2 linked regions of the Homo sapiens genome follow. The protein of the gene in region 1 interacts with the protein of each later gene in a pairwise test. Each region holds a gene or a part of one and is shown in the gene's direction. Other genes may lie near its edges.

Region 1 (3,655 bases):
TGGTTTGGGAACAGAAAGAGATTCCCCAGCACCATTTTTAGCCCCTACATGGTGCCATAATGCTGCTTACTGTTGACCAAGCTAAGTTCTAAGTATATAGTTGTGTTGGGGATGAGAGGGGCTGAACAACTAGCCCGTTCCCAGCAGAGTAAAGCAGGGGAAGTGGGATGTCACCAAGTCCACTGAGAAGTTGCAAGGAGCAGGTTGGGCAGGTAGCTTTTCACCACAGAACCACTCTTCTATGGTGACCAGCACTGGTTCTGAGACTTCTGAAGGAATGGAAGAGGTCTAGGAATTAAAACAACCTCAACAGTGTTAATTCACTCTACATTGTCTTCATTAGAACAATGAATGGAACCAGGTGAAATCTTTGTTACATATATTTGGTTTTTCTGTATATAATCAATTACTGTTAATCTGATCATTGTAGAGAATCATTGTTTGCTTCATAATTGTTTATCTACAGTTTTTTTTTAAATAGTTCTACCACTTATCCCTTTTAGCATTTTGGTAATTTTTTAATCTTTTCCTTTTAAAAAAAGAATGATGCAGTGATACTGTATATGCAAGCTTATATGTCTAATATAAATTACTTACAAAAATGGAATGCCTACTTTCGGATTATTTTTATCCTAAGAAACATTTTTACTTAGCTAAGGGAAATTTTCAGCACTGTATCCATCTGCATCTTTAAAATAAGCTATTTTCTTTATGATTTTTTTGGTGGCACTCATATAATTGTATAAACTAAAACGAATCCTAATTAAATTCTCTGGCATATTAATGCCTATTATTTGGTATTATTAGTTCACGTAGGAATATCTTCATAGATTACTTTGATTGATGAGAAATTAATCTATTTAAAGAATCAGACTTTTGGAGTTCTAAATAACCATCGAAATAATCTAGTTGAGCTTTTTCTTTTTTGAACATCCTGAAACTTGAGACTCACGTGTGCAAAATGAATTGTCCCAGGGTCACACCGCCTTGGATTAGCCTCCGAGTCGGGATCGGAACCTCATGCTCCAGGTCTTGATCATTCCAGGACTGTTTTCATAGTGTTGTGTTGTCCTTATATATAAGGAATAGGCTAGTGTTCATTCATATGAATGATGACATCAGCATCTCAGGTCTGGAGGTACAATCTTTACATGTGAGGTTAAAAGTATAACTGTTGTGGGTTATATAAACTATTCAAGTTAGGTTTCTTATGGTGGCAAAATGGAAGACTTGAGATAGGTGTTGGATGACCTAAACCTGGAGCCCTATTTTTGTAAGATTCTTTCTTTTGTTCTGAACTTCAGCTTGCCCAGTTATTGGCGGAATTGAACTCGATGCCAGATTTCTTCCCAGTACGAACCCCAACCTCAGCTTCTGTAAGTAGAACTCCTTATAATTATACCAATACTGATATATGGTGATCAGCCACCAGACGGCTTTTATTCGAGAGAGTCCCCAGTTGTCTCTGTCTGTGCTCTTGATTTCAGAGGAAGAAGACAGTGAGGCGGGCCTTCTCGGAGGGACAGATCACGCGGCGTATGAACCCAACCCGGAGTGCGCGGCCTCCTGAGAAGTTTGCTCTAGAGAACTTCACTGTCTCAGCCGCTAAATTTGCGGAAGAGTTTTACAGCTTCCGAAGAAGGAAGACAATTGGGGTATTTTCTGACTAATACATGAATTAGTTTTTGTCTGAGCTACCATCCCTCCAAACGTGAACGCACGTCACTGTCACCCCAGGGCTGGTTCTGACCCCGTGGGTCTGCGGCAGCTGAGAACTTGCATTTCTCTCTGCTTCCCAGGTGATGCCATTGCTCCTGAGATCACACTTTGAGAAGCAGCCCTGGTCTAAGCTGGAGGTCACAGAGAGAGTCTTTTATCCAAGCCGAGCTGAGAAGCAGCTCATTTGTTAGGACCCTGCTTTAATCTCTGCTGCAGGCAATAAAGAAAAGTGCAGTGATTCCTCCTTGCCTTTCTGTTTTAGGCATGAGGCGTTTCAAGCGCTTTCAGTTTGGAGGGAGCAACTGTGGACCCATTTGTGGGTTTGGCTGTTCAGTGTGGTTCACCTCTCCACAGAGTTTACAGCAAAGAACCAAAAACCTTGAGTTCCTCCTTTATGATTGTATCGCCTTGCTGAGAAGGAAGCTTGGCAGGTGGCAGGAGCTCAGTAAATAACTAAATGAAATGGCTGCAGGGAAATAGAAGAGGGACGGGGTTAACATTAATGGTGCTAGATCTTTGAGAGTTTAAAATATTTATAATTTTTTTATAACTGCTCAACACATCTCCATGTTCTGCTTGTGTTCATTGTGCAGGGGAAATGCCGGGAGTACAGACGACGTCACCGTATATCTTCTTTTCGGCCAGTGGAGGATATCACCGAAGAGGACTTAGAAAATGTTGCCATAACTGTTCGAGATAAAATCTATGATAAAGTTCTGGTAAAGTATACATTAATTGTCATTCTTATTGGGAGTCGAAGGCATTGGTATTGAAATCTCACTTGTTTTTAAACTCTATCAGGGCTTATGCCATCTCACCAAGGGCTCAGAGCCAGGCTCTGAATTGGAGGGTCAAAAGTCAGCTGTACCTGGGAAAGGGGAGGCAGCCTAGTGCAGTAATTCCCATCTGGACGGCGGTCTCTCTTAGGGATGCGTAGAATCTGGGGGAAGGGAACGGTATAGTTTAAAAGGGATTTTTATATGTAACTGTTAATGGTTTAAGCATATAGTTTTATGTTCTAAATATTGAAAAAAGTATATTTGGGGGGTAATATAACCATAGAAATTAAAGTTTGGCAGAATATCTTTGGTAGGAAATGGGTTAAATTTCTTCTAAATGGTGATTTAGAGGGAGGCTTTGCGTTCTGCATTTTTTTTGTGTTTTTCTGGATATGTAACGGGACACTGTCAAGTTTTAAATTTAGTTGCCAATATTTAAAAAAAAATAGATCTCACATTGAAGGTATCCAGGTCTGCAGAGCTAGGCTGGGGCCGAGGTGATGCCACCCAAGGCTCATTGCCCCTCAGTCACCTGTCACCTTTCAGGGGCTCTGCCACCCCTGCCTCAAGCTTTTCTCTGGTCTCTCTTCCTGACAGCCTGATCATTTCATTCCTTCTGGGTCTCTGCTCAGCCTCATCTGACCTAATATGTTTCTCTGGCCACAGACCTGTGATGGTTACATTCTAGAGCAGTGGTCCCCAACCTTTTTGGCACCAGGGACTGGTTTTGTGAAAGACAGTTTTTCCATGGATTTGGGGGGCAGGAAGGGGATGGTTTCAGGATGAAACTGTTCCACCTCAGATCATCGGGCATTAGATTCTTATAAAGGGTGCACAACCTAGATCCCTCACATGTGCAATTCACAATAGAGGGTTTGTGCTCCTATGAGAATCTAATGCTGCTGCTGATCTGACAGGAGGCAGAGCTCAGGCGGTAATGCTCGCCCGTCCGCTGCTCACTTCCTGCTGTGCAGCCCGGTTCCAAACAGGCCACAGACTGGTTCTAGCCTGGGGGCTGGGGACCCCGGTCTAGAGACAATGCTGTGGTTCTTAGGAAAACAGTCCTGCTTGATTCGAGGAGACGGGGGTATTTCTTCATATACTTGGAAATGCACATGGTGGCATCTGGCCTCATTGGGCATCAGCATATCCCTGTG
Region 2 (3,655 bases), on another chromosome or scaffold:
GGTCTGTCAACCAAATACTCAGAACTCCAATCCCATCTGTATTTTTGTCCATAGGCCTGCCCATGAGTTAACTATAGGGCATATCAACACTGCAAACAGGGAAGGAGGAAAAATTGCACTAGATCAGTGCAGGTTGGTGTGAGTGCTGCCTGAATACACCTATGAGGTCTAGTGGTATATATTTTAGTGGTGGACCTACTAGCATGGGTCCAAAGAGACTGGGCACTCCTTTAGCCTTTCTCACTCTCAGCAAGCTTACCTGCCATCTTTGTTCCTGTTTGATGCAGAGTAAAAGAATGACAGTGCTTGGGCAGGACATTGTTGAGCATTAGTGGCAGTGTGCAAGGTATAAAATTAAGTAGCAGAGTTTTTTATTAATCCACTTCTACACAATTCATTTCTACTCTCCTATGTCCTTCTGTGTGGCTGTTTGCATAGAGAAGCACAGTTAGACAAGACTCAAAGCCAGTTTCTTTCTTCAACCTCAGGTCCATCTCCACTGGTGGCTGTGGTGGCTTTGGATTGTTGGAAGACCATCACCTTCAGCAGGTCTGCACTTGGGAACAATCATTCTCCCCCAGCCCGAGCGTGCCTCTGCCCTCTGTATCATTGACAGAGGCTGTATGTTTGGAAAGAGAACTTTGTGACTGCAGAACTGACAGTTGACTCTAATTCTTGCTACCAAGTTTTTCCCCGACCCAGTGAAAGAGTGTTAAGACTTCGACCTAGGACACATTGAGAACCAAGGCCAAGACTGGACAGGGCCATATAACTGGGCTTCAACCATGGCTGGGACTAAGAATAAGACAAGAGCCCAGGCCAAAACTGAAAAAAAGGCTGCTATACAAGCTAAAGCTGGAGCAGAGAGGGAGGCTACTGGTGTTGTTAGGCCTGTAGCCAAGACCAGGGCCAAAGCAAAAGCCAAGACAGGGTCTAAGACAGATGCAGTAGCAGAGATGAAGGCAGTGTCTAAGAACAAGGTTGTTGCTGAGACGAAGGAAGGAGCTCTGTCAGAGCCTAAGACTCTGGGCAAAGCCATGGGAGATTTCACTCCCAAGGCTGGGAATGAGTCCACCAGCTCCACATGTAAAAATGAGGCTGGTACTGATGCCTGGTTCTGGGCTGGGGAAGAGGCCACTATCAATTCCTGGTTCTGGAATGGAGAAGAGGCTGGTAATAGTTTCAGCACTAAGAATGATAAACCTGAAATTGGTGCCCAGGTCTGTGCTGAGGAGTTGGAACCTGCGGCTGGGGCCGATTGCAAACCTAGGTCAGGGGCTGAGGAGGAGGAGGAAGAGAATGTTATTGGGAACTGGTTTTGGGAAGGAGATGATACTAGTTTTGACCCTAATCCTAAACCTGTGAGCAGGATAGTTAAGCCTCAGCCTGTGTATGAAATTAATGAAAAAAATAGGCCCAAGGACTGGTCTGAGGTAACTATCTGGCCCAATGCCCCTGCTGTAACTCCAGCTGTGTTAGGATTTAGATCCCAGGCACCATCTGAGGCAAGCCCTCCTTCATATATTGTTCTGGCCTCCGCTGAAGAAAATGCCTGTTCTTTGCCTGTGGCAACAGCTTGCCGCCCTTCTAGGAACACTCGCTCATGCTCACAGCCTATCCCTGAGTGTCGTTTTGATTCTGACCCCTGCATCCAGACCATAGATGAGATTAGACGTCAAATCAGGATCAGGGAGGTAAATGGGATTAAGCCATTTGCTTGTCCTTGCAAAATGGAATGCTATATGGATTCTGAGGAATTTGAAAAACTTGTTAGCTTACTTAAGTCAACTACTGATCCTCTTATTCATAAAATAGCACGGATTGCAATGGGTGTCCATAATGTTCACCCATTTGCCCAAGAGTTTATTAACGAAGTAGGTGTAGTGACACTTATTGAAAGCTTGCTCAGTTTTCCTTCCCCTGAAATGAGAAAAAAGACTGTAATTACTCTGAATCCTCCTTCTGGGGATGAAAGACAACGCAAAATTGAATTACATGTTAAGCATATGTGTAAAGAAACCATGTCATTTCCTTTGAACTCACCGGGACAGCAATCTGGATTAAAGATACTAGGACAACTGACTACTGATTTTGTCCATCACTACATTGTTGCCAATTACTTTTCAGAGCTTTTCCATTTGCTGTCCTCAGGAAATTGCAAAACCAGAAATCTTGTTTTGAAACTACTTTTAAATATGTCTGAAAATCCAACTGCAGCCAGAGACATGATCAATATGAAGGCATTGGCAGCATTAAAACTCATCTTTAACCAGAAAGAGGCAAAAGCCAATCTTGTTAGTGGTGTGGCCATATTTATTAACATAAAGGAGCATATCAGAAAAGGCTCAATTGTAGTTGTTGATCACTTGAGTTATAATACACTCATGGCCATTTTCAGGGAAGTTAAAGAGATTATTGAAACAATGTAAAATGAGCCAGAGATAGAACATTTTAAGCCATCTTCAAACTCTAGCAGGCTGTACATTACAGTGTACACATTATACACTGCATCTTTAACACAGAGTCACCTGTGACAGGCTCTAGGTTTGAGCTAGACTATTTTGGGGGTATCAAATGAATATTATACCTTGGGCTGAAAATGTTTGATTTTTATCTTGTCTAGATTGGCATATTTTTAACATTTTACTTAAGATAGCAAACCAGTTCGTTTTAAGTAAGCTAACTTGTTCATTAGTATCTGTGGCTTAAAATGGCAAAAAAGAAAATATCCTTGAGTTTGTAATCTAGTTACAGAAGTAAGGCATACACACACACAAAGATAACAGTACCTAGAGAGAGAGTGTGTGTGAGTGTGCGTGTCTCTGTGTGTGCACGTGCACGCTCATGGCCAAATGTGCGCACTCTACATAAAGGAGGCAGGAGTTCCTATAGGCTATTTAATGTAAGAGAAACTATTTTTCTCCTGTTCCAGCTGTATCAGATACTCGTTCCGCAACACAGAAATGACTCAGAATCTCAGACAAAATGTATTATTTGTTCAATTTTAATTTTGCTACTACATTCATAACTCTTAAATTGTTAGGCTGTTTCATTTACATCAAAGTTATCTCACAAAAGAGAAGGCAGGAAACGTTTTGTGAGTGCCTATTCTATGTCAAACACTGTGTTGGCACCATATTTTACAAGTTTTTTTCCTCTTCTCACAGTGATCTTGTGAGTTAGTTACTTATATTTTTATTAGAACTCATTATTCTGGGTACCCTCCAATGAGAATTAGAGAGGTTAAATACCTTTTCCTAGATTCCCACAGCAGGAAGGTGGCATAGCTGTTTTGTCTGACACCAGAACCCATCTCACCACACTGCTTTACAGTCTTCCTGAAGGACATTTTGAGGTGGGGGGGCCTTCAAAGCTCAGAGACTGGTTTGAATGGTTTAATTTTGCAATGGATCATGTCCATGCCAGGTGTTACAATTCTTAACTTCCTCCAAATTCGTGTGTCCATTAGACATTTGGCTACATCTGGCTGGAGGTCAGGAGAAAATTCTGAGGTAAATAGATGGATTTTATCTGGCAGTGTCGAAAATAGTAGGAGCCTAAAACTTTGTTCAATGAGTAAGATGTAGATTTGGAGTCATCAGCAGGGGAAACTTGTTAGATGTCCTTTGTATCTTTTTCTATCCATTTGTATTTT

What was found.
Region 2: the proteins of CDCA7L (region 1) and GPRASP3 interact in binary tests that used the Homo sapiens proteins (3 or more experiments, as listed by UniProt).

The regions. Positions count from the first base shown.
Region 1 is NC_000007.14:21,904,289-21,907,943, reverse strand, and holds part of CDCA7L (cell division cycle-associated 7-like protein), read left to right. Parts: intron 1-1,304; coding exon 1,305-1,376; intron 1,377-1,487; coding exon 1,488-1,655; intron 1,656-2,312; coding exon 2,313-2,438; intron 2,439-3,655. UniProt on the Homo sapiens protein: Plays a role in transcriptional regulation as a repressor that inhibits monoamine oxidase A (MAOA) activity and gene expression by binding to the promoter.
Region 2 is NC_000023.11:102,748,211-102,751,865, forward strand, and holds part of GPRASP3 (G protein-coupled receptor associated sorting protein 3), read left to right. Parts: intron 1-488; 5' UTR 489-785; coding exon 786-2,429; 3' UTR 2,430-3,655. UniProt on the Homo sapiens protein: Survival and differentiation promoting protein that plays a role in the regulation of neurosynaptogenesis. Induces phosphatase PP2A activity which results in APP dephosphorylation and inhibits BACE1-mediated processing of APP.